3 separate regions of the Homo sapiens genome follow, and all the other regions are linked to region 1. The links come from fine-mapping of genetic effects on gene expression. A gene starts in region 1. Each other region holds a variant in brackets. All regions are shown on one strand. Distances are between the middles of the regions. Region 1 holds the start of INTS6 (integrator complex subunit 6). Region 2 has its middle 40 kb from the start of CCDC70. Region 3 has its middle 47 kb from the start of INTS6-AS1.

Region 1 (10,093 bases):
CCTCACCTTCCACTATGTCTGGACTTCTGAACTGGACATGTAATCTCTGATCTCAGAAGTCATCATCATAAGCATAGGTTCTGATTATGGCTGGCTCACTGGACTTGGTTTTCCTTACCTTTGCATCTAACCCTATCTCTACTACATACTTTCACTTATGACCCTAGTATGACAACCTGCTAACACCATCGAGTCAGGGAAGAGCGAGCCATGATGGTGATGATGGCAGCAGCCCGTCTGAAGTGGCTGCTGCCCTGACGCTGGCTATAATCGGGGAGGCACGGCTACAGCCGCGGCGGTGCTCTATGGAGCCAGCAAGAGCTGGGAACAGGCAGAAGCCCTGCCCGCTTCCAAGTTGGAAGAGTGGGAGTCCTGCCCTCCTGAGTGCAGCTGCAGCCACCCAGTCATGGTTGTGGACCCATTCATCTCCGGACAAGTGGAGGGTAAGCAAGGCAAAGAGGTGCTTTGCTGAGCGACAGAACAGCTCAGAGGAGACCTGAGGGCAATGGGTAGCTTCTTTCTGCAGGCAAGTCATCCCAATAAGTGTCCAGCTCTTAGCAGAGAGGAGACCCACAGTGGGTAGTTCCTCTCAGCAGGCAAGTCATCCCGTCATCTTCTCAGCTCTCCACAGAGAGAAGACCCACTCTCAGGGGACCAGGAAGCTCCCTGCTCCCGCAGGCTTGGAAGTGCCTGCTCCCACTGCCTGGCCTCTCCCCGCTCCCAGCACCCGCTCTGATTTCAGAGCAAAGTTGTGACTAAGCCTGGGTGCTGTCACGACCCGACCAGGTGTGCACGTGCTTGGGGCAGCATTGACACGCAAGCCCCATGCTGCCTCAGTCCCCTCTGGACTTTGGGTGCTGATGAGCACAGGAGGGAGGCAGGCCGAGGCGGGAATAAGGACATCTCAGTGAAGGCCTGTAGGTACCACTTAGCATGAACAACCTGGGCGCCATGGGCACTGTGGATGGCAGGTTAATGGCAGCAGGATCCACACAGGCTCCTGGGCGGAAAGGGGTGGGTCCCCGGTAACGCCAGGGGTCAGGCTGCCAGTTCCATGCAACGGAGTGAGAACTTATGGTGCTTTCTCCAGGCCTGCCCATGGCTGCGCCATGGACCAATCAGCACACACTTCTTCCTCTCAGAAGCCCATAAAAACCCTGGAGTGAACCAGACTTGGGCAGACAATGAGATGACCTGCTTGCAGACAGGAGCTACCCACTGTGGGTCTATGGACACTGTGGGTCTCCTCTGTGGAGAGCTGAGCAGATGACAGGACCACCTGCCTGCTGAGAGGAACTACCCATTGTGGGTCTCCTCTCTGCTGAGAGCTGGACACTTATTGGGATGACCTGCCTGCAGAAAGAAGCTACTCATTGCCCTCAGGTCTCCTCTGAGCTGTTCTGTCACTCAACAAAGCACCTCTTTGCCTTGCTCACCCTCCACTTGTCCACATACCTCATTCTTCCTGGATGTGGGACAATAACTCGGGACCTGCCAAATGGCATGGCTGAAAGAGCTGTAACACAAACGGGCTGAAATATGCCCCTTGCTTGCCATGTTGTGGGCAACACAACAAGAGAAGAGAGAAGAAGAGAAGAAGAAAGGAAAGAGAAGGGGGAAGAGAGGAGAGAAGAGCTGTGGCCCTTTAGGAAGCCTAGACCTAGGAGCTCCCTGTGACAACCTCTTTGGGGCTCTGCAGCTCCTGGCATCTCCAAGCTTCCAGGTGCCACTGCATTCCCTGGTGCCAGCTGTGGAAGCTGCTTGCAGTACACCTGGACCAGCCACAGCCTTGCAAGGGGCCAGCCCCTAGAGCTGCCCGCCCTCCTGCAGCTGGCATGCCGGGCTGTATACAGTGGCCGGACCCCATGCTTGCTCGCTCACACACCCCTCGCTGCTCCGCACCTGGCTTGCACTTGGCAGGTGTGGGATCCAGGCCGTAGTATGAGCAGAGTGCAGCCTGCTGGGACTGGTGGGCAGAATGAGCCCGACCAAAATTCGGGCAGAGGTGCCATTTTTCCAGCTGGAAAAGTGACACTCCAAGGATCCTGTGACAATGGCTCCACTGAAAAATGATTTCGAATAACTGTAATAATAGGTAAGGTCATTGTGAACGCATGTTAATCTTCAGTAGTCTAGTTTGATTTCTTTCAAACATTGCTTCTACTTAGCAACGCAATTGAAAAATAAATCTCCAATTTATAGGGGAAAAAAAACCTCCATAGATTGGAATAAAGGCCCTCTACTGTCTAGATCTCACCTGTGTTTCTAGATCTTGTACTATTCTACATGCACCTGTTGCTCCAACCTAGCTGAACTTCACTGTTCCTCAGGAAGCCCTCAGCAATGCTGTCTTAACTTCCTTTCTTCACATTTTCAATGTCGGGAAGATCTTTTCACTAGCAGCTTCCCCTTCCTTTACCCATATCCAAATCCTACCAGTCCTTTAAGACAGTGTTTCTTAAAACTGAATAATGAACAGACTCCTAAAATAAATTCTTATGATCCTAGAGAATGTTTTCAGTAGGCTGGGGTCCACAGACCAGTTTGAAAAGCACAAATATAAAGAACTAAAGAGCAATTGTATAAAATTATGCAAATGATCAAGTTGAAAGACAAATTTCATCTTTATAACTGGTAAAATAACTCGTATTTTGCCATAGAACTCTGATTCTTATCTTCAGATCTATGATCCGTTTAAGAAACACTAAGGCAAAGCTGAAACCTTGGAAAATGTTCCTGCATCACCCCAAGGTAATACATTTTTATTTTTTCTGATTTGGTGTCTAACAACTTTCTGCCTTGGAGTAGCTAGTAATATGTAGCATTTTCCTAGAAAACATAAGCTCTTTGAAGACAGGGACCACATTTTATTTATTTTTTATATGCACCACACCTAATACACAGTACATCCTCAGCAAGTACTGGCTGTAAAGCCTATATTCCATGCTCTTATTTTGTAGTCCAAATCACTTTAAAAATCACACTTCTTCTATTGTTCATACTCATAGAAGAGCATATTACTCAAATAGCTCTGCTATAAATTAACAGTAAGTTTCAGAAGTTATACCAAGTCACGAGACTCAGATTTTTAAAAAGTGCCACAAAGTGTCTCTTCTGTGTCAATGTTAATAGAACCCTTTCTTTAAATGATCAGTAGGCAAATTAAGAATTTCCGGATAAAGAACAAACTCTGGAAAAACAAAGCTAGTGGGAGAGGCCCTGTAAATACCTACCTAGTCTTACAAGGGCTGTCTCTAACTCAGCTTGTATTTTAGGCAGCGTCTTCAGTTTTTCAACTAATGTGTTTGAGAAAACTGTTTTCCTCGGACATGCAGGCGTGGACTCCTTACTTCAGGTAAGGTGACAGCAGCTTGACAGAGAGTGCCTTCCCTCCCACGGCATTTGGGACGAGGCTGAAGGAAAGACACAGGCGGGGTTACGGGAAACCCATTCTCTGCGCCATCTGGGCAAGCTGAAGTCAGTTTTTCCGCTTTCTCACGAGGTAATGGATTATCATGGGCTCAGGTCCCCTTCAGCTCTGAAACAGGTATTCTATGGCTCTAAGTAAACACGGCAAGAGACAGGTTATTTCTTTGGTAAGATCAGTTGTATTTCCCAGAGAATAAAACGGGCAACAAACCATTTATCGATATGTGAGTCTTCCCCCTAGGCCCTAGCTATTTGGGGTTGGATAAAGAAAAAGAGGGTTTGCTTCCTTTTTGGCGGGTCCTCCAATGACAGGGCTCCTGGCCCGCTGCGGGTCCAACTCCCACCTCTCGTGGCTCCCCCGAGGCCGAGCGAGGCTCCGTGCGAGGACAGCCCCTCAACCGCACTCCCCAGAGGGAGCGCTGGGACTCGCGGAGGAGATTAGTCCCCGGTCATAAACAACCTCTCACTTCCCCTCCCCCGCCCGCGCCCGCTCGCGCCGGGGCGGCGCGCCGGGGCGGCCCTCCGAGGCCCAGGAACCTCCTCCGGCGCCCGCGAGGCCCCGAGTCCTCCTCCGGAGGGCGGCTGCGGGCCTGCCCTCTTCTCCTAACCAGGTGTTTGTCCACTTTACTCAACCCTTCTTACTCGTCCACGCTACGGCCACCTCACAGGGGCGGCTGACGCCAGCCCCTTTTTCCCTCCCCTCGACCCCTATCACCTCCAACAGCCAAGGAGAGGCCGGCGGCCCTGACGCGCAGGCTCACCGCCGCGGCCGCCCCGCGCGCGCGGACGCGGCCCCCGCCCCCACCTCGCGGTCCTTCCGCAGTCCGGCCCCGCCCCTTCCCGAAGCCCGCCTCCGGGTCGGCCCGCCCGCCCGCTCGCGCGCACCCGACGCCCCGCCTCTGCGCGTGCTCAATAACTGTCCCCGGAGCCGGCCTACAAGCTTCCCCCGCCCCTGAGCTGTTTAAATATGCTAATGAAAGGATAGGGCCTGACCAGTAGAACGGCGAGGCGGTGTATCACGTGGCTCGGGGACGTGTCAGGGGCGGAGCCTCCGCAGCCCCTGCCCGAGTTAAAACCGGAGTGTGAGAGAGAAAAGCGCTTCAGTAGCGAGAGGGGCTGAGAAAGTGGTGACACCGCCGGGGTGCGGAGGGAGTCCCTGAAACTTCTCCCAACAGCCCCAGGGCCAATCTTCCCTCAGCCCACTCCCCTCTTCGCCAGCTCCCAGGTCCCCACTCCTGTACCGGGGGTGGGGTGGGGAGCCAGGCCCGTCTCCCGCTGGGACACACACAGGGGCCGGGAGCGGGGACGGGACCCCCGAGGCGGGGGGGACGAACCGACAGACAGACGGCTGGGCGCCCGCCCCAGCGGGCAGGCAGGCAGGAGGAGGCGGAGGCGGGGGTACGACGGGGAGCACTGGGTCTGGGGAGTTTCCTCTCAACTATCGGGGGAGAAACTCCCCGCAGCCGGAGGAAAGACCCAGACAGTGTTTTCCTCCCGGGGGCCGTGCTCCCCCGCCCCGCGTAGCGGCGGTCGCCGCCACCGGCGCCTCCACCTCTACCATCTCCTCTTTCTCCACCACCTCGGGCCCCGGTGTCCCCGGCCAGCACTATGCCCATCTTACTGTTCCTGATAGACACGTCTGCCTCTATGAACCAGCGCAGCCATCTGGGCACCACCTACCTGGACACGGCCAAAGGCGCGGTAGAGACCTTCATGAAGGTACCGACTGACCGAGCCCGGGCGGCGACCCCGGCCCGGCGGCCCGCGGGCGGCAGGGTGGGGGAGGGCGGCCGGGGCGGGGGTGTCGGGGACCTGACTGCGGGAGCTGCCGGGCTCGGGGACCCCCTCCCCCACCGCGCGGGCGGGCGGGCGCTGCGAGCCGGGTTCGGCCGGGGCCCGGGCTCCGGCCCCGGGCGGTGTGTGGGGAGCGATCTGTGTGTGGGGGACGGCGTGGAGGGGTGGCCGCTGCGTGTGCGGTACTGTGGGGGCGGCGGGGCCGCTGGGCGCCCCTTCTCCGCCTCGTAACCTCGCCTCTGTGCTTCCCTGTCGCCCGCCCTGTTCCTCCTCCCGTCCCGCAGCTCCGTGCCCGGGACCCTGCCAGCAGAGGAGACAGGTATATGCTGGTCACTTTCGAAGAGCCGCCCTATGCTATCAAGGTAACAGCCCTCGCCCTCCCCCTTTCCTCCCTTCCCTTCCCTGTTCCTTCCTCGCTCGCCCTCCCCGCCCCCCCATTCACCCTTCATTATGCTCCCCTCCCCCACCCGCTGCGCTCCCAGCCGCTGAGGTCTCTTCCCTGCGGGCTCCCACCCCCTCCCCCGCTCGGCAGCGTCCTAGCGCGGCGCGGAGTCGCGGGGCCACCGCCGTCCCCTCCCGGCCCGGCCCGGCAGCGGCGGCGGCGGCGGCGGCGGCGGCGCTGCTATCAACATGGCCGACATTTCCCCTCCGCGGCGTGAGCGGCAGCAATGAACTGTGGGGGATATTTATTCAAGTTAGCCGGAGTGACAGCCGGGCCCGGCCGCGCACAGCCCCGGTTTGCATTAAAGGGGAATCGGCCCGGCCGGCCCGGAAGCCAGATGCGGGGCTGCCAGGATTGGTCTTGTCAGATTCGTCCTAAGAGGGCCGGTGGGACAGCTGCAGGTTAACTTCCTAAGTCCGGCTCCCATCTGCTTCCACTAGTACCTTCACATACCCAAATTTTGGGTATTAGATTAGGTAGTAAATTTGTCAGTGAAGTTATAAAGTATTAAGGCAGTTAACTACCAAAACCTAGAGAGGAAGCTGGGTTATTCCTGGGCCACCTTTGGAAGAGAGTTTCCTCAGCAGCGGTACAGTATTAACACGTTAACCAAGCCAAACCAACCAAAAGTGAAGCTGCTACTTGGTGAACGTCAGATTATAACGGCTCTGTGTACATGGCTTTAAAAAATGAAAAAAAAAAATCTTACATTTTTCTTTTCAGGCTGGATGGAAAGAAAACCATGCAACGTTTATGAATGAATTGAAAAACCTTCAGGCTGAAGGACTTACGACTCTTGGCCAATCCCTAAGGACAGCTTTTGATTTATTAAATTTAAATAGATTAGTAACTGGCATAGACAACTATGGGCAGGTAGGTTGAATAATAAGGTGGCAAAATAGTTGATTTTTCATTTTGTGGAAAAACACAGTCCAGTCCAAAAACTACATAACATGAAATGCAAGTATAAAACATTCCAAATTAAAATAGAATATGCACATTGTTCAAAGGCAAAACTCTTACCCTACTATATATATTTTACATCCCTCATTTTTTCCCCCTCTAAAATGCATTGGTATTCAGGATTAGAATCTGAAACTTTTGCTATAAAGTTGACATACATTGGTTTTAATCCCTTGAAAGTTCAGTAAAGACCTAAAAGGAAAAGCATCCTACCACACCACACTCATGTTGTATGTGCAACTATTATAGTGGCTTAGAGACACTAGTTCGTGTTCTTCGTTTCTATATTAGTAAAGATGTTAGAGGAAATTAATCTGTTTGTTGCATCAGGGTTTAATGTGACCATGTTGTATAACTATTCTGAAAGGTAAGAAGTTTTTCACTGGAGTACAGTCACTGGCTGAGAACATTTAAGTTTTCTTTTGAAGCATACACAGTTAACAACTATTGCAGGAAGAACTCTGAATTAAATTTCAGGCCCAGAGTTTTGATTTAAACTCCAAACCCTTGGAAAAAAAGACTGCTGGAAAATATGAAAGAACCCTTCGTTTCTTAACCCCCACAAGTCCTTTTATTGCACTTACTTTCATGTATTTGAGGATGAGAGGAGCTTTAAATCAACAATAATTCACTAAGGAATAATGCAAGGTGGTCTATTGTAACATTTTATGATATTATTGCCCTGGAAATAAAAGATACTGAACAATGTATAATGTTACATGTAACAAAGGAATATTATTTCCAAGGAGCTCAGTTCTTATGTTGTAGTGAAAAGCACTATTCCTAATTATATATTGGGTATATGTTGTATTTTCCCAAGTCCCACAGTCCCTAGTTTTGTGAGTTTCGTACATTTCAGGGAAATTCTTTCTGTGACTACAACTTTTATTTGCTTCCTATTGAAGGAAATTGACTTGTTTCTGTTTTAGGAAATTTTAAGCTTCTTAGGGATAACTTCAGTGCTTAAGTGTCTTTGGAAATAACTGAATTTAGTTCTATAACATTTAAAATGTACACTGAAATTCAGAGTGAGCTTACCAAATTGAACTTCCAACGTTTAGTTAGGTAAATATGTACTTTCTTACCACATTAATACTTTTATGTTTTTCCCATCTCTGCTGCTTTTATTTTGCAACTTTTAATAATTTAGGTAGATTTGCAATGAACTTTTTGGTTTGTTTCTGTAAAATAGTAGTGGATTTCCTTCTCTTTTATATTCCTTTGTGATATGTAGTGCAACACAGTCTTACTGCTTAAGGTTTTCATCCTTACCTCTTTGAGTTCAAAGAGATATTTAAAACTTGCCATTATTTGGTTACCTTTATTTGGTTGTCATGTTGTTAGTGTATGGCAGAACTATTAGTTTCCTCTTTTTCTGCATCACATTTCATAAGTGGTCAAGGCATTTGGACATATTCACCTCCTATTACCTATTAAAAATACTTCTTAAAGATTGCTTCCTTCGAAAAACTGCTTGTCATGGAGAGGCTGAGGACATTTGTAATTTAAACCTGTATTTTCCTTTTCCCAGTTGATATCTGCCCCCAGAGAACACTTTAGTTCTTGTCTATAAGGCTTACCAAAAGTTTGCGGGAAAGGTGGTCCTGTGCTGTTACCACTTTGACCAAGAGAAGAACCTGGAGATTGGGATGTTTTTGCATGTCAGGATTTATTAATTCAATAACAGAGAGGGATGATGCTTCTCACTTATTCTGATGAATCAGCAAAGATTGCAAAGCATAATATTAATGCTTATGTCTTGAATTGGCACATTAAAAATGACACTAGCATTAAAATAAGCCACTGTTTTCAAATGAAAATGATAATTTGAGTAAAGAGTATTGAATTGGAAGAAAACATTCTTCCAGAAGATTTTTTTCATCATAAAACTATCTGATTTAAACATTTCATGTTTTCTATTCACAACAAGGATAAATGATTAGGAATTTTGGATGTCTCAAATATTTAATACTGAATATTGTTCATGTGTTTTCTTCTTTGTAAAAGTACTTTGTATCTGCCTGTTTGCTGTGGAATACTTTTATTTTGTAACTTCAATGTCTTTACATAAGTATTTCCCCTTTCCTGCTCTATACTAGGATCTGTGGTGTTCACAGTACTAAATACTTGTATGTAACGTTAGTAGTTGAAGGAAATGAGAAAAGATTAGGTGGAAGATAGAACGTATATATTTTATAGAACATCTAAAAACTTTAATGTTCTGAATTACTTTCTTAAATGTCTGGGTTAATATATATATTTGTATATTTATGTAGATATCCACCATTCTCCCACATATATGCACATATATGATTTTTCATAACTAATTACAAGACTATTAAATCTATATTGCATTTGTTAACTTAGTTAACATACCTACAGATAAAACATCTTTGAATTATTAGCTAGGATGCTATCAGAATTTGCAGGGCATTAGTAAGGTTAAGTAACTGAGAAAAAAGAATGGTTCTTAGTGAATGTTTTCCTCAAGCACTTTGGGTATCCCACTAAAAAATTCCATGCCTACAGACATTGTTATAAATATTTAATTTTGATAATCAGTACCATTTACTGATATTTCTACAGTAATGGAGCAATGTATAGCCTTTAGTCAATCTTTTCCTTTATAGCAGTACTTTAAGTTGCATATCATTGCAGATAAATTTGATACATAAGTTTTTCACGTGTGTTCAACAGAGTTTCAAATAATGCTGATCCTTTGAGACCTGCTGAAAGTCTGAAGCAGCCTTAATATCTAAAATTAGGAAATGTATAAAATGTGAGAGGTCTGATTAAAGTTTTATATGTAGATGAGTTAATTTTCTTATTGTTACAGGTCATCCTGTTTTCCATCAATATATATGTATATTTTTTTTGAGACAGAGTTTCTCTCTTGTTGCCGAGGCTGGAGTGCAGTGGCGCGATCTCGGCTCACCGCAGCCTCCTCCTCCTGGGTTCAAGCCATTCTCATGCTTCAGCCTCCTGAGCAGCTGGGATTACAGGCTTGAGCCACCATGCCTGGTTAATTTTGTATTTTTAGTAGAGACTGGGTTTCTCTATGTTGGTCAGGCTGGTCTCGAACTCCTGAACTCAGGTGATCTGCCCACCTTGGCCTCCCAAAGTGCTAGGATTACAGGCGTGAGCCACAGCACCCGGCCCGATATTTTCAACATTGTCTTTTTTTTTTTTTTTTTTTTTTTTCAGTAAATTATGTTAGTTAAGATTAGCCAATATATCTTTACTCTGGCCTGCAAGTCCGTTTTTGTTACTGACCTGATTCCACACCCCTGCTACCTGAAGTATGTTAGTACTGATTAAATTGTTCCAGGAGTTAGAATGGCACCTTTCCTACTATGTGCCCTTGGTGAAGACAATCCTTGACAGATATCTTAAAAGGAGATAAAATATGTGCTTAATTTTTTGAGGATTTTCTATGGTGAATGTTTACCTCATTGAAAAATGGTG
Region 2 (10,093 bases), 450 kb before region 1:
GAGCCTCTGTCTTCATGTGGCCTCTCATGAAGGGCTCTAGAGTGAGCTCCCTTAGGGGATGTCAAAGGCCGTTCAAGACAGCAGAAGCCACAAGGCCACGTAAAGCCTCAGCTTGGAAGTTATGCAACATCACTTCTGCTGCATCCCATGGGTCAAAGCAAGTCACAGATGCACCCCAGATCCCTGCTCACGTTGGGAGGAGAGGAACATTAACCATGTGGGAGGGGAGGGTCATTGCAGTTGTTTTTGCAAACAACCTGCTACAGAAGATGTGGCTTCAGAGCACTGCAAAGGCGTTTCTGAACAGACCAGATCACATAGGAAGAGCAGAAAGAAGTGAGTTCCAGCTCATTCGTCTTTGCTAATGTGGAGTCAGGGTATAGCTTCCCTTTCACTGTTGGTCCCCAGCATCAAGGGTCAGTTGGATGTTTGTCCAGGAGCCTGCAGGGACTGTTTGTACTTCTAGAGGAGAGTTGGCATGGCTTTGGGTTGCTGTCTCTGAAACTGCCCTAGGGCCTGGGATCCCGGGGAGTGCCTGCCTGTGCTGGCAGGGAGCCCAGGCCTGTTTGCAAACTGTTTGAATGCCTCAGGGTCAGGGTCTCTCATGGACATATTATTTTCTTATCAGGAGTTAAAATAACTCTAGAACTTCTCCTGTAGAAATGCAGATGCTTTATTACAATGAAAGTACCATTTGTAAAGCATATGCAATTAGGCCAATAACAACCAACATTTACTCCCCACTTTAGGGCCCATGAAGCACTTTCTCATATGTTCTTCCTTGTTCTCACAGTCACCTGTGGTTAGGCCTCATTATCCTAGTTTTTCATATGAGAATACTGAAGCTCTAGGGGCTCCCTGTCTTGCTGGGGGCTCAAAATTGGCTTGGGGCCCTAGGAGTTGCCCTGGGCCCAAGGGTGGAGCTATGGGAGCCCTACAAAGCCTGCCCTGTTTCAGTGAATCCCTTCTCTCCCCCATAACTGCTCATTCTGTGTGGCTGCACTCAATAGATTATTTCACCCTTTGAATTAGATGCCTCAGGGAGTCCCCTTAGCGGGCTAAGTTAACCTTTGCAGGGGGTACTGACATGCCCAGGTACAGCCCAGCCCTGCATGCTGCTCTTTGCTCCAGGGACCCCAGCCTGGTCCACCATTTGCTAGGAGAAGATTTCAGTCCCTCCAGAACACACAGCCTGTAAGGAGCCACACTGGCTCCCAGAGCCCGAGCCCCAAGTCATCACTGGGTACAGTGCACGTTCCTCTGCTGTGCAGTGGTGGAGCTTCATCCTGGTGAGTCATTTGTTCTGCGTCTAGGTGTCTCAGTGAGACTCCTACCTGTCTGCTTCAGAGCCACAGGTGAAGCCTTCATTCTCAATCCGATTGAAGAAGAGAAGGCGGCATCACAGCTGAGTTGCTCTCCATCATAGAACCATGGGGCATTGTCCTCAGACACACGCTGACATTAACCGAGGCTAATGAGGCAGAGCCTCTCATAATAGCATTCTGTTTCTTTGGAAACCAAGGTGTAGTTTTTTAAGTGTCGCATGGCCCTTGATTACAATTTGCATTTCCTAGCACTTATTCTACCATTTTTACAGGGACCTGTGGCAGGCAGAGGGGCTCTGGGCAGCTTCCCTGCAGGATTCCACTTCCTGCTTGGGTCGACCGCGCCGCTGCGAGGGAGGGCTTGCCCCTTGCCTCCCTGCTCTCTGGGTGTTTCCTTTGTGAAGGGAGGGACCTGGCATGCTAGAAAGCATCTCAAAGCCCTGCTGAAGAGGAACTCCGGCTTCCCTTGGGTTGCTCTGAAGAAGGTGCTCTCCAAATGAGAGGGCCTCAGGAAGACAGTGGCATCTCCCTGACTGGGTGAGTCAGGTGCAGCTCTAGCCGAGGTGAGTGGGACCTGCCGTGTCCGAGGTGGTGACAGCAGGCACTGAGACTGCTCTGGAATCATGGCTCTCTGAGGTTGTTGCTCTGAAGTCCTGCCTCTGGGCCCTCGTCCAGTGTCGTGACAGCTCTTTTCTCTGGAAGAGGGAGGACAGTCTCTCTCCCTGCACGAACTGCCTTCAGCCTGACATTTCTTCTCCTGCTTAGGGCCGTTCTCTGTTGACTGCTTCGTGTTGTCTGCTGTTTCTCTTAGCTCAATGCTTCTCAACGAGGGTGCTTTTGACCTCCCCCAGGAGCATTTGGTAATGTCCACAGATATTTTACACAGTAACTACTGGAGGTGTGCTACTGGCGTCAAGTGGTTGGAGGGCAGGGATGCTGTTAAACACCCCACAGCACACAGAACAGACTCCCACAGCAATTATCTATTCCAAAATGTCAGTACTAATGAGGTTAAGAAACACTACTAATGATGATGTTCCCCTACCTGGTAAATAAAATTCAAGGTTTTCAGCCTCCACATCAGTACAGAATGAATGTTTCTTAATTGAAATGCTTGGAGCCAGAAGTGTTTTAGATTTAGGATTTTGGAATATTTGCATTATATTTGCTGGTTGAGCATTCCCAAACTGAAAATCTAAAATCTAAAATGCTCCAATGAGCATTTCCTTTGAGCATGACCTTTGAGCATCATATTGATACTCAAAAAGTTGCAGAATTTTGAGCATTTCAGATTTTTGGATTGCTCAACCTGTACTTTTCACAATATCTTGAAAACGGACCATGCTTATCTTTTCTCTTTTGATCTAGAGCCTCCTTCTTTTCCACGTCCATACCATGAATTCCTATTCAAGCCCAGAGAAAATTATTCATTACTACTATGCATTAGCTGCTGAAGGCCAGGTGATGTTTTCCCAGATCTGACTCATCATGATCATGATCATCAATTATCATTATCATCATCATCAACAACAATTACCTTAGGGTCATCATAAGAATTGCATATAAGCTAGCCACCAAGCAGTCATCAGTCATCTGCCTTTAGCCCAGTGCTACCTGAATTCAGTTTCTGTCATCATGTATTTCTTAATTTCAAAATAGGCAGCAGCACTAAATCTGGTCCATGGGCTCATTAACATCATCATCATCATCATCATTAATATTACCATCATTGTCATCATCACTGCAAAGCAGGCAACAAGCAGTCATTAAGCTCATGCTGATTCTGATGCTGATGGTGAATGAGAAGCAGCACTGCAGAAAACCACCTCATGCCTAGCATCCCAGGGCCACAGGTGCTGTGTGTTAGATTGAGTGTTCACTTGTCCAGTGTGAATGTATTTTTGTTAAGAGTTATTGGCCTTTGAGTTTCTGGTGACCAGATGCTTCTTTCTAAACACACACACACACACACACACACACACACGTGGAAGACTGTTGGAGAAACCCAAATGGTGTCATAGGAGGCAGGTGTGAGAAGACACTTTGGTTGCACAACCAGGTATGATTCTGCCAGAGCAGAAGACCCTATATGGTTCTCTTTTCTGCCCCAGCACTGCCTCATTATGGCTATGATAGGTTTATTGAAGCTAAAGTTTGGGCATTCTGGGGCAGCCTTTGCCCCACACCCACACGAGTCTTTTTCATTTTTCGGTTGCCACTGAAGTCTGGAAATAGCACTCTGCCTTTTCCTCTGGCCCCATAGAAACCGGGACTTCTGGGTGTTTAACTTAGCATCTGACTCCATTAGATGCTCAGGGTCTCCTGCACTTACACCTAGGGATAGGAAAAAGGGGTGTTCTGGGGAGAGTAGGGGGAGCAGTTTGCCCTCTATTTGGTGGCTTTCCTTGTACAGTGGAGAGAGCAGCCAGAACCTGAAGTGACAACTGAGACATCGTCATCTGACGTAGAGTCTCTCTTCCCTCCCTGACCTCGTTGGTGTGCCACCTCTCCCTCCCTCCCATTTCCAACAGCATGCTTAGGAATGAGTTATGAAGTGTCTTATTGGAAACCAAGACCTCAATGGCAATGAAGGGAAGACACTATAGTTAGTTATTATTGATCATCTCTACCTGCACTTTCTATATTTGCAAGCACTTTTTGGGACTTAGTGAGTAATAAATAAAGTGTCTCTAGATCACCTTGCTGCTTCCCACTGCTGCTGCCTCGTGCATCCAGTTCTAGTTGTGTACCTCCTGGATACACACACTAAGGAGGTGAGACCTTCAAAAGAAATGCAAAATATTTCCACAATTGTGTTTGTGTACAAACTGACCTGTCAAAACCAAAACTATATTTAGGTACTAGATTATAATCAACACCCCCAGTGGATGCTATTGGTGCCTTGCCCAGGGCCCCTTTACCAGGCGGATGCACTCATCTCCCAGCTTTGAGTATTGCTCACCGCAGCCACCTGCTTCCTGAAGAATT[G/T]CCCTTGCAGAGCAGAAGCCACCATGCTAGGAAGTTATCCACTCCCTCGGCATCACATAGCCAATAACCAATTGCTGTCAGGGCTGTGTTAGTTATCTGTTTCTCAAAATAAATTACTCCAAAACTTAGTGCCTTAAACGGACAATGAATATTTGTTATTTCACAGTCTGTGTGTGTCAGAGATTTGGGAGCAGCTTAGCAGAATGGTTCCCGTTTGGGTTTCTCAGGAGGTTGCCCACAGACTGTCCATCAGGGCTGCAAGTGACCTGCAGGCTTGACTGAGGCAGGTGGCCTTGCTTCTGGGGTGGCTCACTGGCCTGGCTGGCAAGGTGGGGCTGGTTGTTGGCAGAATGCTCAGTCCCTCTAACCATGGGACTCTCCCAAGTTCAGCTTCTAGAGTAGCTATGATAACATACTTTCTATAAAACCTATATTCTAAAATGTATTTAATAAAATAACTTTCCTCTAATTTTTAAATCTGCAACATTGCAGCAGTTCATTTTAGACATTGAGAGGCTGAACATTTTAGATTCTGGTTCTAAAGGCATGTGGGTGCCCTCAACATCAATAGCAGCAGCTAATAATTCCCAAAGCTTTTCCAGGCGCCAGGCCGTGAGAAGGGCAAAATGTGTTGTGATTCTGTTGAAGTAATGCCTACCACCCCTTCAGTCCCACACTGAAAATGTAACAAGGCAACTGGGAAACTGTCTTCAACATCAGTGCTTTTTTTCATTTTGCTTCTCTTGATTTTTACATCTTACAAAACTGAGAATCCACCTATATTTATTCTTTCATCCAATGCACGTTGGCTTCTGACCTCACCCCTGAAATGGCTTCTCCAGAGGTCTGCAGTAACCCCCCTGATACCACATCCCAAGTGATTCTTTTCAGTTTTTTTATTACATGACCTTTCCATGGAGCTTGACCCCAGTGGATAACTTCCCAAGCTCCTCCTCCTTGAAACTCTCCTCTCTTGGATTTTGAGCTTGGATGACAGAGTGAGAAAGGCCTGGCGTTTTTGCTCTGGACTGGGTAACCCAATGAAGCTATGTGGATTTTCTGCACAAATTTGGAATGTAAACACACCCAATGGGGCTTCTGCCCAGAGGATTGTAGCTAGGCTGGGCTGGAGGTAGGGAAAGCAGGGAGGAGGCTACGTGTTTGTGGGAGGAGGCTGATAAAGCCTGAACTCGGGGAGGCAGTGAGCCTTAGGAGAGCAGGTAGATTCTAGATACTTAGGAGAGCCACTGTCACAGAGCTTTGTAAAGGGACTTGGGATGGAGTGGGCACTGGGGGAGGGCAGAAAGGAAAATAGAGACACTGAAGATGTGTCCAGGCTTCTCCGGGGGTAGTTAGTAATGCCATTGACCCAAGTCAACTGATGTATTTCTGTGTTTTTGTTGGATTCTTCTTCATTTTTGACTTTCCTTGGCTATATGAATTTCCAGAAGTACCTGTTCCAGGGGCAACTGACAACTGAGAGGGGTGTGAGGCATGGGAGGGCGGGTGGGGCACAGGCAGCTCCACCGGGCGCCACCCCTCTAGCAGGAGTGGTTTCTTTATATGTACCAGGGATATTTCTGCATTGAACTCTAGACCATGTGGAACTTGGCTTTTTAGCAGGTCAAATGCCAGGCACAACTTTCTAGCTGGACCAGATGCAGCCACACTCAGGAACCGTGCTTCATTAAAGTGTGTGTGGACCCAGGTTCTCTTCCTTCACAATTTTGTGAGTACAGATGAGGTTGTGTGGACATTAACATCACAAATATGAGAAGGCTGGGCCTCACTTGAAAAAAAAAGAAAAGTTTTATTGAGATATAATTCACGTCATAGATGTCACCCCTCTAAAGTTTATAATTCAGTGGTTTTTGGTATATTCATAGAATTGTGCAACCATCACCACTTTAACATTTTAGAACATTTTCACCACCCTTCTCTCCCACAAAACTCTGTACTCATTAGGAGTCATGCCTTTCTCTTTCCTGGCAACCTTGTATCTACTTTTTGTCTCTACAGAATTGTCTATTCTGAGCATTTCCTATAAATGGAACCATAAAACGTGTGGCTTTTTGTGTCTGGCTTCTTATACTTAGCATAATGATTTAAAAGTTCACCTGTGTTGTAGCATGTATCAGTAATACATCATTCATTTTTATTGCTGGATAATAATCCATTTTATGGATATATCACATTTTGTTTGTCCACTCATTCGTTGATGGATACTTGGGTTGTTTCCATTTTTTTTTGGCTACTATGAATAATGCTGACATGAACATTTGCATACAAGTCTTTGTGTGGACTTATATTTCATTTCTCTTGGAGAGACACCTGGGAGTGGAATTGCTAGGCTATTATGGTAACTGTATCTTTACATTAACATTGAAGAACTGACACATGGGCTGCATCTTTTTTCTGATCCCATCAATGATGCATGAGAGTTCCAATTTCTCCACATCTTCACCAACACTGTTATTGTCTGTCTTTTTTATTTCAGTGCATATGAAGTGGTATGTCATTGTGGTTTTGATTTGTATTTCCTTGATGATTAGTGTTGAGCATCTTTCCATGGTCATTTGTATATCCTCTTTGGAGAAATGTCTATTTAACTCATTTGCTTATTTTTAAATTGGGTTGTCCTTTTTTTGTTGATTTGTAAGAGTTAATTTATTCTGGACTCCAGTCCCTTATCAGATCTGTGACTTGCAAGTATCTTCTCCCATTTTGTGGCTGTCTTTTCACTTTCTTGATTATGTGCTTTAAACCACAAAAGATTTTTATTTTGAAGAAGTCCGATTTACATTTTTTTTCTTTTTTTGCCTGTGATTTCAGTGTCTAAGAAACCATTGCCTAATTCAAGGTATAAAGATTTATTCCCAGGTTTTCTCCTAAGAGTTCCATAGTTTTAACTCTTGCATGTAAGACTATGACCCATATTGAGTTAATTTTTGTATGTGGTTTGTAATAGGAGTCCAACTTCATTCTTTTATAGGTGAATATCCAGTTGTCCCAGCACCACTTATTGAAAAGACTGTTCATCTCCCATATGATTGCCTAGGCTTGTCTAAATCAATTGTCCATAAAAGTAAAGATTTATTTCTATTCATAATTTAATAAAAATGTAGTTCTATTCCATTAAGCTACATGTCTAGCCTTTTCTAGTGCCATGCGGTCTTAATTACTATAGCTTTGCATTAAGATCTGAAATAGAGAAACTTGAGTCCCCCAGTTTTGTTGTAAGATTGTTTCGGCTATTCTGGATCCCTTGCATTTTTATATTAACTTTAGGGTCAGTTTGTCAATTTCTACATAGAAGCCAGATGACATTTTTGAGAGGATAGTGTTGAATCTGTTCATCAATTTGGGAAATATTGCCGTCTTAATACTTAAGTCTTCTGATTCATGAACATGGCATGTCTTTCCACTTATTTAGGCCTTCTTTAATTTCTTTCATGATATCTTACAATTTTTAGTGTATAAGACTTGCATTTTCTTTGCAAGTGCCAAATGTTGCTGATTAGAAGTACACTGGAAAAACCTTTCAGTCGCTATACCCTTTTCTGGCTTTTATTACTGTTTTTAATTGACACATAATAACTGTATATATTTATGGGATACAGTGTGATTATGAAGCCTTGCACCTATGTTGTTTATCTCAAGTATTTTTTCTTCTAGATGCTATTGTAAATTGTTTCCTTGATTTCATCTTCAGATTATTCATCGCTAGTATATAGAAATACAATCGATTTTTTATATATTGACCTCATATCCTGCAACTTTACTGTACTTGTTCATTGGTTCTGAAAGCGTGTTTTGTGGATTTTCCAGATAAGAGATCATATCATCTGTGAATAGAGATAGTTTCATTTACTTACCATTATTCTTACTAAATGAATTAATAAGTAAGAGCTGTGGGAGTAAGACATGCAGTCTAGACAGTCTCTAGAAGGTGGCCTTGACAAGGCCAGCAGTGATCAGCAGTGGATGAGAACAGGTTTAGTACTGTGAGATTGGAGCAGGGATTGAGGCAGAGAAAGTGAGGAGGAATGACAGGCAGGTACAAGGTAGAATCAAGTGAGTGGTAGATCAGGAAATCCTAGATAACAGGTTGCCGGTGGCACAGTCATTTTTATTACCTTTTTAGCATGCTGGGTGCCTCTCCTGGAACACATTTAAAGGACCCAAAGGACTCCTTCCAACAGTGCCGTCTTAGCAGGAAAAAGATATAAGTCTAAGCCATTCTTGTTGGCTTTGTGCAGCCAGGATAGGCTGTGAAGTAGGCAAAGGGCAGAAGAGGAGAGAGAACTAACATTTATTATCTAGTATGTGCCAACATTTTGCATATATTGTTTAGTTTAACCCTTACATTACTCCTACTTTTGCAAATGTGAATCTGATGTTTGTTTTGTAAAACATTCAGAAAATGCATGATATTTATGTAGTGGTAGCTGCCATCACACCATAAGTCAGTTGCCCATTTCTCCATCCATGAGGCAGCCATCCTCTCTATTATAAGGAGCTCATTTCTCAATTAGTTCTTTGAAAACTGAAAAGCATGTAGATATAGAACAATATCCTGCATTAGTGCTTCTTAACCAGGAGTGTGTCAGGAGAAAAATCCCCAGGAGTTTCTTGTATTTCTGCATGTTTATGAGCAGGGGCACTGCACTTTTGTTCTAATTATCTTTTTATTTTATTTTATTTATTTATTTATTTATTTTTGAGATGGAGTCTCGCTCTGTTACCAGACTGGAGTGTAGTGCCACAGTCTCTGCTTACTGCAGCCTCTGCCTCCCAGGTTCAAGCGATTCTCCTGCCTCAGCCAGTAACTGGGACTACAGGTGCACGCCACCAAGCCTGGCTAATTTTTGTATTTTTAGTAGAGATGGGGTTTCACCATGTTGGCCAGGATGGTCTCAATCTCTTGACCTTGTGATCCACCCACCTCAGCCTCCCAAAGTGCTGGAATTACAGGCGTGAGCCACCGCGCCCAGCCCTTTTTTTTTTTTTTTGAGATGGAGTCTCACCCTGTCACCCAGGCTGTAGTGCAATGGCATGATCTTGGCTCACTGCAACCTCCGCCTCCTGGGTTCAAGTGATTTTCTTGCCTCAGCCTCCTGAGTAGCTGGGATTACAGGCACGCACCACCATGCCTGGCTAATTTTTGTATTTTCAGTAGAGACAGAGTTTAACCATGTTGGCCAGGCTGGTCTCCAACTCCTGACCTCAGGTGATATACCCACCTCGGCCTCCCAAAGTACTGGGACTACAGGCATGAGCCACTGCGCCCAGCCTTGTTCTAGTTATCTTTTCAACTATTTTTTTCAAGAAGATTATAAAGGAAATCATCTTGGCAGACAAAAATAAGAGTCCCCCTCCAGGGAAGACAGATTTTCTTACTGTGTATGATAATAAAGATAATTTTGGCCAGGCACAGTGGCTCATGCCTGTAATCCCAGCACTTTGGAAGTCTGAGGCAGGCAGGTCACTTGAGCCCAGGAGTTCAAGATCAGCCTGGGCAACATAATGAGACTCCATCTCTACAAAAAAAAAAAAAAAAAAAAAAAAAAAAAAAATTAGCCAGACATGGTGGCATGCATGTGTGGTCCCAGCTACTTTGGAGGCTGAGATAGGATGGTTGCTTGAGCCTAGGTCAGGGCTACAGTGAGTCATGATGGCACCACAGCAAGACCCTGTCTCCAAAAAATAAAAAAAAGACAATGTCTTACTATGGTGTAAAAGTTGGGCAGGTTTACCTGCAGTCCTTTCAGCCTTTCAAA
Region 3 (10,093 bases), 48 kb before region 1:
ACATAAAAATTTACTCAAAGTGGATTAAAGACATAAATATGAAAGCTAAAATGATAAAACTTCTGGAAAAAATGGGAGAAAATCTTTGTGGCAGTGGAGTATGCAAAGAAAAAGATGTTTTTGATAAGATACAAGAAAAGCATGATTCATGCTATGACAGAAATACTGAACACGTATAATAAAATAAAGTAAAATGAAATTTTAAAAGCACAATCCATACAAGAAAATAATGACAAATTTGATTTCATTAAAATTTTTTTTCTTTTTTTTTACAGAGTCTTGCTCTGTCGCCCAGGCTGGAGTGCAGTGGTGCAATCTCATCTCACTGCAAGCTCCACCTCCCAGGTTCACACCATTCATCTGCCTCAGCCTCCCAAGTAGCTGGGACTACAGGTGCCCGCCACCACGCCCAGCTAATTTTTTGTATTTTTAGTAGAGACGGGGTTTCACCGTGTTAGCCAGGATGGTCTCGATCTCCTGACCTCATGATCCGCCTGCCTCGGCCTCCCAAAGTGCTGGGATTACAGGTGTGAGCCACTGCACCTGGCCTAAATTTTGTTTTTAATTAGCTCTTCTAATGACTTCTTTTAAAATACAAAAATGCAAACCACAGACTGGAAAAATATATTTATAACACATATATTTGACAAAGGACTTTATTGAGAATATAAAACAAACTTTTACCACTCACTATTAAGAAGAAAAACAACCCAATTAAATAGGCAAAAGATTTGAACCAACACCTCACAAAGGAAGGTACGGGGAATGGCTGGTAAGTGCATGAAAATCCATCAGGGAAATGCAACTTAATCATCAAGAAAATGTAAATCCAAATCACAATAAGATATAACTTCGTGTCCATTAGAAAAACTAAAATTTAAAAAACTGGCAACCCCATCTGTGGGTGAGGATGTAAAGCAACCACCAATTTCTTATAAAACAAAATGTGCGCCCACCCTATGGCCCATCAAACTTACTCATAAGTATTTCTTACCCAAGGGAAATAAAAATATATGTTCACAAAACACCATATATTAATACAAGAATGTTCATAGCAGCTTTATTTATAATAGCCAAAACCTGGAAATAACCTGAATGTCCATCAGTAGAAGAACGGCTAAATAAATTGTGGTACGTCTTTACAAAAAAAATTACTCAACAATAAAAAAGCATATTCTTCCAATATATGCAACCATGTGGATGAATCTCGAAAACATTATGCTGAGTGAAAGAAGCCAGATACAAAAAACACACACCGTATGATTCTATTTGAAATTTTGGGAAAAACAAACTAATCAATAGTGACAGAAAGCAGATGCAGGGTGAAATCAGCTAGGATCTAGCCAGTGTTGTCTTGCTAACTAGTCATGCAAGCTTGAGCAGGTCACTAGACCTTCCTGCTCCTTCATTTCCTCAAATATAATAGATAATTAGACAAACCCAGGTCATATGTGCTAGCTGAGATTCAAGGTCTCTTCCAGTGCTAAATTCTTGGTCTCTTCTGCATCCAGACCCATGGTGATATAAAAGGAAAAAATGTATTCGTGATGCTTACATTGAATTCCTAAAACTTAGTATAATTGTCATGAAGTGGTTTTGTCAAAGAAGCGAATCATTGTCTAGATAATTTTTCTTTTGCCAGAGAAAGTTAGGAATTAATAATAAAATAGGCCAGAAAAGTGAAGAAAGGGTTCTAACTGCAGTGGCAGGAGGCCTGGGCTTTTGATAGAAAACGCTGAGTATGGTGGGGAGGGGGGGGAGGGGGGGAGGGAGGGTGGGGGGGGTTAGGCTAAGTAGCAGAAAGAAGTAACAGTTGCAAAAAAAAAAAAAAAAAAAAGAAACACAACATGCAATGAAACTGAAGGCTCAAATCACCTTCCTGCTACATCTAGGAAACTGTAAAGTTAGAACCATTCATTTCCCCAGTAACACATTATTCAAAAGCCAAAATCACGGTCAAACAAATAGACCCCAAAAAATGCATTTGAATGGGAATTTCACTTGGGTCTTCTAGAAGGGACACCTTGCCTGTTTCACGACAATCCCATAAGGGACGTACTGTGCTTGTATTTATCCTCCATTTTACAGGTGGGGAAACCGAGATACATACCAGTGTATTACCCTTCTGAAAAACAAGGCATTTTAAATTTGAAAGCACAACTGGCCTCATGGCTTTAGATAAGGGATTGTGGACCTATAATAACTAACTCGCTGGGTTGTGGTCTGGATTAAATGTGATGATGTATGTCAAGGCCCTGGCACATATTCAGTTCTCTATAAGGGGCAGTTATTACTATTAGAAGGAATAATTAATTTTAGTTGGTAAAATTTCTAAGGTGTCTTGGAGGATGCAGGATTATAAAGATCCTTGTGGCAAGACCACTCAAGACAAAGGAAATTGCTTCAGCCAAGTTAATTGTGTGATGGTGGAGGGTGTATTCTGGGAATGTGAAATAAGGAGATGGTACTGGATTTGAGGATTACAGAAGAGATGAGGCCAGAAAGCTTGGTTGGTGCTACAAATTGTGGATAGCTTGTTGACATGTAACACCAGGAGGCCTAAAAGCTTGGATCTATGGTTGTGGGGGAGCGGAGTTGAAATTTAATGAAGGTCGGACATGGGAATACAGAAAAAATAGAACGTTAGGAAGACTGGGAGGCTCAACCAGGATTTGGCAACCAATATTGGGTAGGGGAGGGTGAGAGGGGGATTCTGGAGCTGAAATGTTTCTGAGACTTCAAGTATGACTCACATCTAGCACAGTTATGACTTGAGATCCAGTGCTTCCATGAAGAAAAGGACTAGGCTTGTATGGAAGGATAAGTTCAATTCAGGATGTGCTGAGTCTGAGATGGATACAGAACAACTGATCAGAAATACAGGCCTGGGGCTGGGAGATGAGTCAGCTGGAGGCAGAAGGGGAGTTGTCCCCTAAAAGATCACAGTGAAACTACCCAAGTAGATGAGATCATTGAGAAAGTACATGTAGCATGAGGCAAATACTATCAATATTAGTAAGCATTACAGGGATGTGCATGTGCTTGGGGGACCTTGTAGTGGGAAGGGCATCATACAAAATTAAAACATCTGCACCTAAGTCCTTCCTGGGCTTTCATATGTATACTCTCATTAATCAATCTTTAACACATAACATTGTGAGGTAGAAAAAAGAGAGAAGAAGGGCAAGCGTTTGTGAAGGTTCATATTTTTGAGGTTAGGAAGAAGAGGAACTAGAAAAAGAAAGAAAGATCAAGTTTTTATAAAGTTGTAGTAAACCTCCAACAGCCAACTTATCATTGTCAGACAGAGATCCTGCCTCCAATATTCTTGAACCTTAAATGAAGATCAGGACTCATACCTAAGATGTGTGTAACAAGCTAAGGGGACATTTGAAAAGTGCCAAGTACAAGGCATAGATGACAAACACTAATCATGGATTGGGCTGGATTTGGTCCAGGAAGACTCAGAGGGAAAACATGTGGGCTGAGTCTTGAAGGACAGCAGGGCTTGGAGGAGTGGAGAGAGCAGAACAATGCAGACCAGGGGGACCCACAGCCCTAAAGGCCAAGAATTTCCTTCCTTCCTTCCTTCCTTCCTTCCTTCCTTCCTTCCTTCCTTCCTTCCTTCCTTCCTTCCTTCCTTTCCTTCCTTCCTTTCCTTCTTTCTCAGAGCCTCACTCTGTCACCCAGGCTGGAGTGCAGTGGTGCAATCTCGACTCACTGCAACCTCCGCCTCCCGGGTTCAAGCGATTCTCATACCTCAGCCTCCTGAGTAGCTGGGATTACAGGCATGCACCACCATGCCTGGCTAATTTTTGTTTTTTTAGTAGAGACGGGGTTTCACCATGTTGGCTGGGCTGGTCTCGAACTCCTGACCTCATGTGATCCGCCCACCTTGGCCTCCTAGGCTTGAGCCACTGTGTCCTGCCGAAGCCAAGAATTTTCTCTGACCTCATATTTACAACCAATGTGTACCAGAAAGTCTCATACAAACTCACAATGCTTACATACTTATGTGGTCATCAGATATGGCACAACAGTGGCTTTGATTTTCCTTTTATACAGGAGCACATTTCAGCTTTTCTTCCAGTTTCCTATTTATTTTAGTTCCAATGTTTAGTTAATACCTTTGATTTTTAAACATTAACTCTTCTAATGTCAGATTCTATGGCATTCTGAATTATTGACATTATGCCTGAAGATTTTAAAAGAACAACTAATTCTCAATTACTTCCAGTTTACTGGTCTGAATGTTGCTCCCCTCCACCTGCAACTTAGGAGGGACCTTGGAGCAAGGTCGTGTCCCAGATTGTTGAGGACGTTTGCTGCTCCTTGGCTTCCCAGCTCCTGTTCCTCTTTCTAAGAGCACTGTGAGTTGCTTGTTGGGAACTAATGGCTCCTCACTGTGGCAGTCCCAGTGGGACTGCTAGTTAAGGAAACTTGCTTCTTGCCAAGAGAG[T/C]TGGCCAATCAAATTTTATTCTAGACTAGTGTATCTTGAGCAGGGTAAGTCAAGGACTGTGTAAAAAAAAAAAAAAAAAAAAAAAAAAAAAGGACCAGGATTTCAACAATGATGCTCTGAAGAGATCATCAACCACTTTCTACCCCAGGGCTGCTCTTTCTGAGTCTCACTCTTCAGGTTGTTTTTTCATTCTGGGAGCTGTCCCACATCTTTCTCTTCTCTCTTAACTTAGCCAGGGTCAGTTTCCATTGTTTATAAAAACCAAAACAAAGCAAAACTCATTCACTGACCTGACCGGAAAACGTGATATTTTCAATTGTCTGCCAAAGTTCCCCCCACTGATGTGGAAAATCAAGAGTGATAAGGATGGTTAAAAGAGAATAATTGAGATATTGCGACAAATGATACTTTGTTGGTTTCTCTTTCAGTTACTTGAATCACTGTCGACACACTTGCTTGAAGAAGACACTGGAGAGCCATTCTGTCACCCAGGCAGGAGTGCATTCATGATAGGTAGCCTTACTATGCGGTTCTAGTCTGTACCCTGCTATCTTTTCCAGGGGATGGTTTGTGTAGAGCATGTAGAGTGGCTCCTGTGTTCTCTGGCTTCCTGGTTGAGTTTCGTCCTCCCTCTGCCTTGAGAGAGTAGGGTCTGGGTGTGAGTTCTCTTAGCTACCACCTTAAGAGGTTGCTTCAGTCTGTCTATGCCTAGTGGTGTGCTAGTAAATGTTTAACTGGCTTTCTGCAAAAAAAAAAAAAAAAGTTCTGGTTTACAGTATTTGCTGATTACCATGGTACCGTATTCCCACCATGACCGATTTTAGGCTACCAGTGTGACATCATTGAATACAAGTTGGGAAAAGATGCAGTCAGCTCTCATGTGTCCTATGAGGTGGCTCCAGCACATAGCTGTGTGTGTGTCTCCCAGCATGACTCCTCTCAAGGTGGCCCTGCACTCCACAATTCTTTCTCCTTCGAGCTCTAGGAACTTGCATGATCCCTTTGTGGTCTGCCTAATCCCTGCACATATCTTTGTAAATTGTCCCTTTGTAAGAAAACAAACTGTTCATACACATCCACTCACGTGTGCATGAGAAATTTCACAAATTACCCTAATTTGAAAGTGCCATCACATGGTGGTGGTAACTAGCCTCCAAGGTGGCCCCTAGTGATATCTTTCCTGGTACTCATGAACTTGTGTAGTCCTCTCCCATAATGTATCAGACTTGGTCAATGTGACCAGTAGAATATGGCAGAAGTGATGATGCGTTACTTCTGAGATTAGATCCTAAAAATCACTGCAGCTTCCTTCTTGTTCACATTCTCTCTCTCTCTCTCTCTCTCTATCTCCTCACCCCCTCTCTCTCCCCATTCCCTACCACCACCTCCCTGTCTCAGAGTCTCTCTGGAATTCTCACTTTGGGGAAGCCAGCTTCTGTGTCAAGCAGTCCCATGGAGAGACCCACATGGTAAGGAACTAAGGTCTGCAACAACCATGTGAGCGAGACTGAAAGCAGCTCCTCCAACCCTAGTCCGAACTTAGATGACTACAACACCTGCCAACAGGCTGACTGCAACCTCTTGAAAGACTGAGCCAGAACTAGGTAAGCTGCTCCCAGTTTCTTGACCTTTGAAGACACTGTGTGAGATAATAGATGTTGTTTGAAGTTGCTACATTTGGAGTAACTTGTTACACAGCAATAGAAAACTAATACAGGCACCCTGACTGATCACTCTGTCTTACCCTTCATATCTAGACACTCAACTCCTAAGCAAGACTCATCTGTTCACTTCTCTTATTCTCTGCTGCTGGCATCCTTGTCCAAGTCTGAACTGCTGCAACTGGTAACTGATTTCGTCAATGACTGCACTCTAGCTACAGTGATCAGTGGAAATCTGTTGCTGACATTCTTCTTATTAAAACCCTTTCCTGGCAACATATTGCTTTTAAAATTAAGATGAGAATCTTTATATGGCTCATGTACCTATGGGTGACCATAGCTTTCTTGCCTCCTCAGTTTGTCTTGGGCCGCCCTATGTACTCATGCTCACCTGCCATCTATGCTTCCACTTTACTGGTCTACTTTCTATCCTTCTATCTGCCAAGGTTCTTCCTTGCCAAGCACTGTAGGCACACAGCTTAAAACACCCTTTCCCTGCAAGCTTTTCCTACCTCCTGTCGGCTCAAATAATCTTTCAAGTCTCAGCTTAAATGTCACCTTCTGAGGAAGCCTTCCCTGGCCTCCACCAAGACAGGGTTAAGTCCACCACATTTTACTTTCAAAGCAATCTTATTCAATATTCATCCGAATTTATTGGACCTCTAACAGTCACTGTCTAGAGGTTTGGAATAGATCACATAATATTCCTTTGCCTGTGGTGAGTATGACAATTTTAATCCAAATAATGATTTGTTTTACTAACTGATTAATGCCTCTCTCCATTGTTAGATTGTAAACTCCATGTGGACAGTGACCATTGTCTGTTTGTTTCTCAATGTCTGGCTCAGAGTAGGTGTTCAATTAATATTTGTTGAAGAAATGAAATAGTGAGCTTTCAAGTTAGACAGATCTGAGTTTGAATACTTGATCTACTACTTACAAATAGTGTGACTTGGGCACAGTTTTCTCATCGATAAAATGTGAATAATGACAGTATCTGCCTCTTAGTGATGGAGTGAAGATTGAATCCCATCATCCATGCAATGTGCTTAGAACAGTGCTGGATACTTAATAAGTGCTTATGCAAATGAACCATTTATGATTGAAAACGAATTATATACTGCATTCATGTCACAGAGCTCATTTTGAGACTTTGTCCATATATTGTAATCTGCATTTTCCCAAGTCATTATTTTTCCCCAGAATTTATCATTTTGGTGTTGTTGCTCAGCTAAACTTACTCACTTCCATTCTTTCAGAAATTCTTTGACAATTTGAACAGATGCAACATTTTTTGTTTGCTATAAATTTCCCCACTTAGAGGAAAGATTTGTAACGTACATTTGGGAAAAATGGAAAATGATACACACCCTTCAGAAAGATTTGGTGTCAAGGAATTAACAGCAATAAACAGTAGTAGCTGTATCTAAAGAACATGGCAGATATAAATCAAACTGAAGGAAAAATAGGAAGTTGCATGACTACAGTGTTTGATTATCCTGATCAGGATTATTTATAGCAAATCTTGGCTTGCATTTTTTTTTGAAGGTACTAATTGCATAGAAGAAATAACTTAAAACATACCTGTCAAACTGTCAGTGGCAGGAGGCTTTATGTTTTAGTTTGTTTGGTGAGAATCCTTTATAAGAATGTATCACATGTGTATACACACACACACACACATGCCCACAAATATGATTTAATGAATAATAAATGTATTCTACCTCAGAAAGAAAAAGAGAAAGTTGAGGGAGGTTAAGCTGGGCTTCAGCTTCGTTTCTCACATAAATTTTATCAGCTATAAAAGCTATTTTTAATGTGAAGAAGAAAGTGAGGAGGAGCAAGGAGAGGGAAAATTGGAAAAAGGCAGGCTGGGTACCCAGACATATTTTTACTATGTGGCTTCGTTGTTACTTAAAATCTTATAAATTTCTAAAATGTTGAATGTTGTTCATCAAATATGTACAGATTGCCTTCTCTGTGTAAGTCACTGCTATACATGGCCTCCTGTCTAATGGGACAGATCAGACAAGCAGCAGATACTGTAACACCCTTTAGAAGGGGTTAGGTGCTGTAGCAGGAATGCATATCAAAGGCTAGAAAGGACGGAGAAAGCAGAAATCACATCAAGGGGAGGCACGTAACATTCTGGGAAGAGGTCACAGAAGGTGAGGCTGAGAAAAGTCTATTGTAGTACAGCAGAAAGTCAATACCATGCCAGAGGTGGAGACGACAGTGTACCATGAAGTGAGAAACTCAAGGAAGCTAATAGAGATTAATGGATCTTTTCTCCTAGAAATATGTTGTGTAAAAAATAGGGAGAGAGAATAGTAGATTGAGTGGTTGTCAGGGCTGAAAAAAATTTTTTCATTTTGTTTTTAAAATACAGGAGAACCAAGTAGGATTTTGGGCAATGAAAAAGAGTAAATATGTAATAAAGTATAGGCAAATTTTGGAAAAATGTTCCATACAAGGCATGAAAGACTGTGATGGACATAAGTGAATTTGTTAAGAGTTGGAAAAATATGGAACATTTCTTAACAATAGAGGGTCATCATAAGTATCATCTTAAATGGTGAAAATAGGCAATTGTAGAGATGGAAAAGACAAATACAAAAAGATAGTCTTAATCTTCTAAACAAACATAAAAAACTGAGAGGTGAGATCATCTTTTGGGAATGTGGGAATGGGGATGGGGTTTAAGAATATATAAAGTTTTGGTTCAGCTGTTACGGGGAATTTGAGAAGCAGAAAAAAATATGAATTTACAAGTATTGGCAAGCAATAGTGGGTAACTCAGATATGGAATGATCCAATCAATACTTTTTTTGTGACTTCCTGCAGCAACAGTTGATAGACTAGGAGTATATGTGATAGAATGACAGTAAGGGGAATTCTGTTTCAAGACCTCTGTGAGTCCATGGAGTAGACACCATGAGCAAAGCTTACCTTTCCATGTTGAAATTATTTATGGGCAAGACGTTATCACTGAAATTAAGTGGTGGCAGACATGTCCAAGGAATATTGTAGGGGATTCGATCCCTTAATGAATCTTGTAATGGATGAATGTGTGGAGATGGCAGCTGGTGGGCAACAGAGCAATACTGGAAAGGTGGTGATATAAGGAAATGGTGTCATCTTGTTAGAAATCTTGGAACAAGGATATATAATGGCTGTGTTCAGGAGAGACATTTATGTCCCCTCTCCAAAGGGCCTGTTTTGCTATGATGTAAATATTGGGTCATGTGTATTTTCATATTAAACTTTTTGTAAATAAACTTTTGTAACAGTCAAAAAACAAAACAAAAGAATGACAGTAAGGCATCCTAACTTGGGGACTGAAAAGGGAAGTATGAATGTAAAATTCAGGGAGATTCTAGCAATCTTCAGAAATGGGTCAGATTGCCTTAGGAAGAATTTAATCTGCTGTCACTGGAGGGATTTAAGCAAGGCTGGGTGACCACTTCAGGCTGTTGCTTAGGGTTCTTGAGTACTGAATAAGTGGTTGGACAACAGGACTTTCTACCCCTTTTATTCTTACATTTTGTGATTCCAGAGTAACATGAAGAGCCTCAATGAATTGGCTGAGCCTGTGGAAGAGGAAAGCAAGCAAGTTCTCAAGCCAAGGCTCCCCTCCAAACCTACTGAATCAAATAACGCTGGGAGCAAGACTTTGGCATGCATGTTAAAACTTCCACATTTGATTTTGCTGCATAGCCAGGATTGAAAACCACAGATATGTAAAATGCTAAGTGTTATTCCAGGCCCTTTACAATGTCTGCCTGGTTTAATTACATGTGTTTAAATATGAGGTCAAATGTAAATAATTTTTGGAAGATCTGCCACTTTGGATTTTTCATTCCACTGTTTTTTCTCTGAGTATGGATAATTGAGAACTACTCACTCAGAGAAGTGAAGAGCATGTGAAATAACATAATCTGTATGGAAGTCATTCATTCACAATTAATCAATA

Evidence for each region. PIP is the estimated chance that this variant, and not a neighbour inherited with it, causes the effect. A credible set is the group of variants that fine-mapping cannot tell apart.
Region 2: its variant is the best candidate, but not a certain one, in a credible set for the expression of INTS6 in whole blood (TOPMed, PIP 0.81).
Region 3: its variant is the best candidate, but not a certain one, in a credible set for the expression of INTS6 in whole blood (TOPMed, PIP 0.87).

The regions. Positions count from the first base shown.
Region 1 is chr13:51,447,470-51,457,562 of GRCh38, reverse strand. It overlaps INTS6 (integrator complex subunit 6), which reads left to right and starts at 4,527. Exons shown (of 18, transcript NM_012141.3): 1 at 4,527-5,148; 2 at 5,508-5,585; 3 at 6,389-6,538. The coding sequence starts at 5,038. It overlaps INTS6-AS1 (INTS6 antisense RNA 1), which reads right to left and starts at 4,218. Exons shown (of 2, transcript NR_103812.1): 1 at 4,145-4,218; 2 at 2,847-3,560. RefSeq lists silencers at 3,762-4,081, 4,172-4,371, 4,602-4,861, 5,102-5,371, 5,382-5,501 and 3 more and an enhancer at 4,492-4,541.
Region 2 is chr13:51,897,159-51,907,251 of GRCh38, reverse strand. It overlaps a transcript of TMEM272 not described here. Among named protein-coding and RNA genes, the nearest start is that of CCDC70, 40 kb to the right of the region's middle. The variant G/T (reference allele first, on the strand shown) is at 4,314.
Region 3 is chr13:51,495,213-51,505,305 of GRCh38, reverse strand. It overlaps the pseudogene SNRPGP11. Among named protein-coding and RNA genes, the nearest start is that of INTS6-AS1, 47 kb to the right of the region's middle. RefSeq lists an enhancer at 2,657-2,806. The variant T/C (reference allele first, on the strand shown) is at 4,460.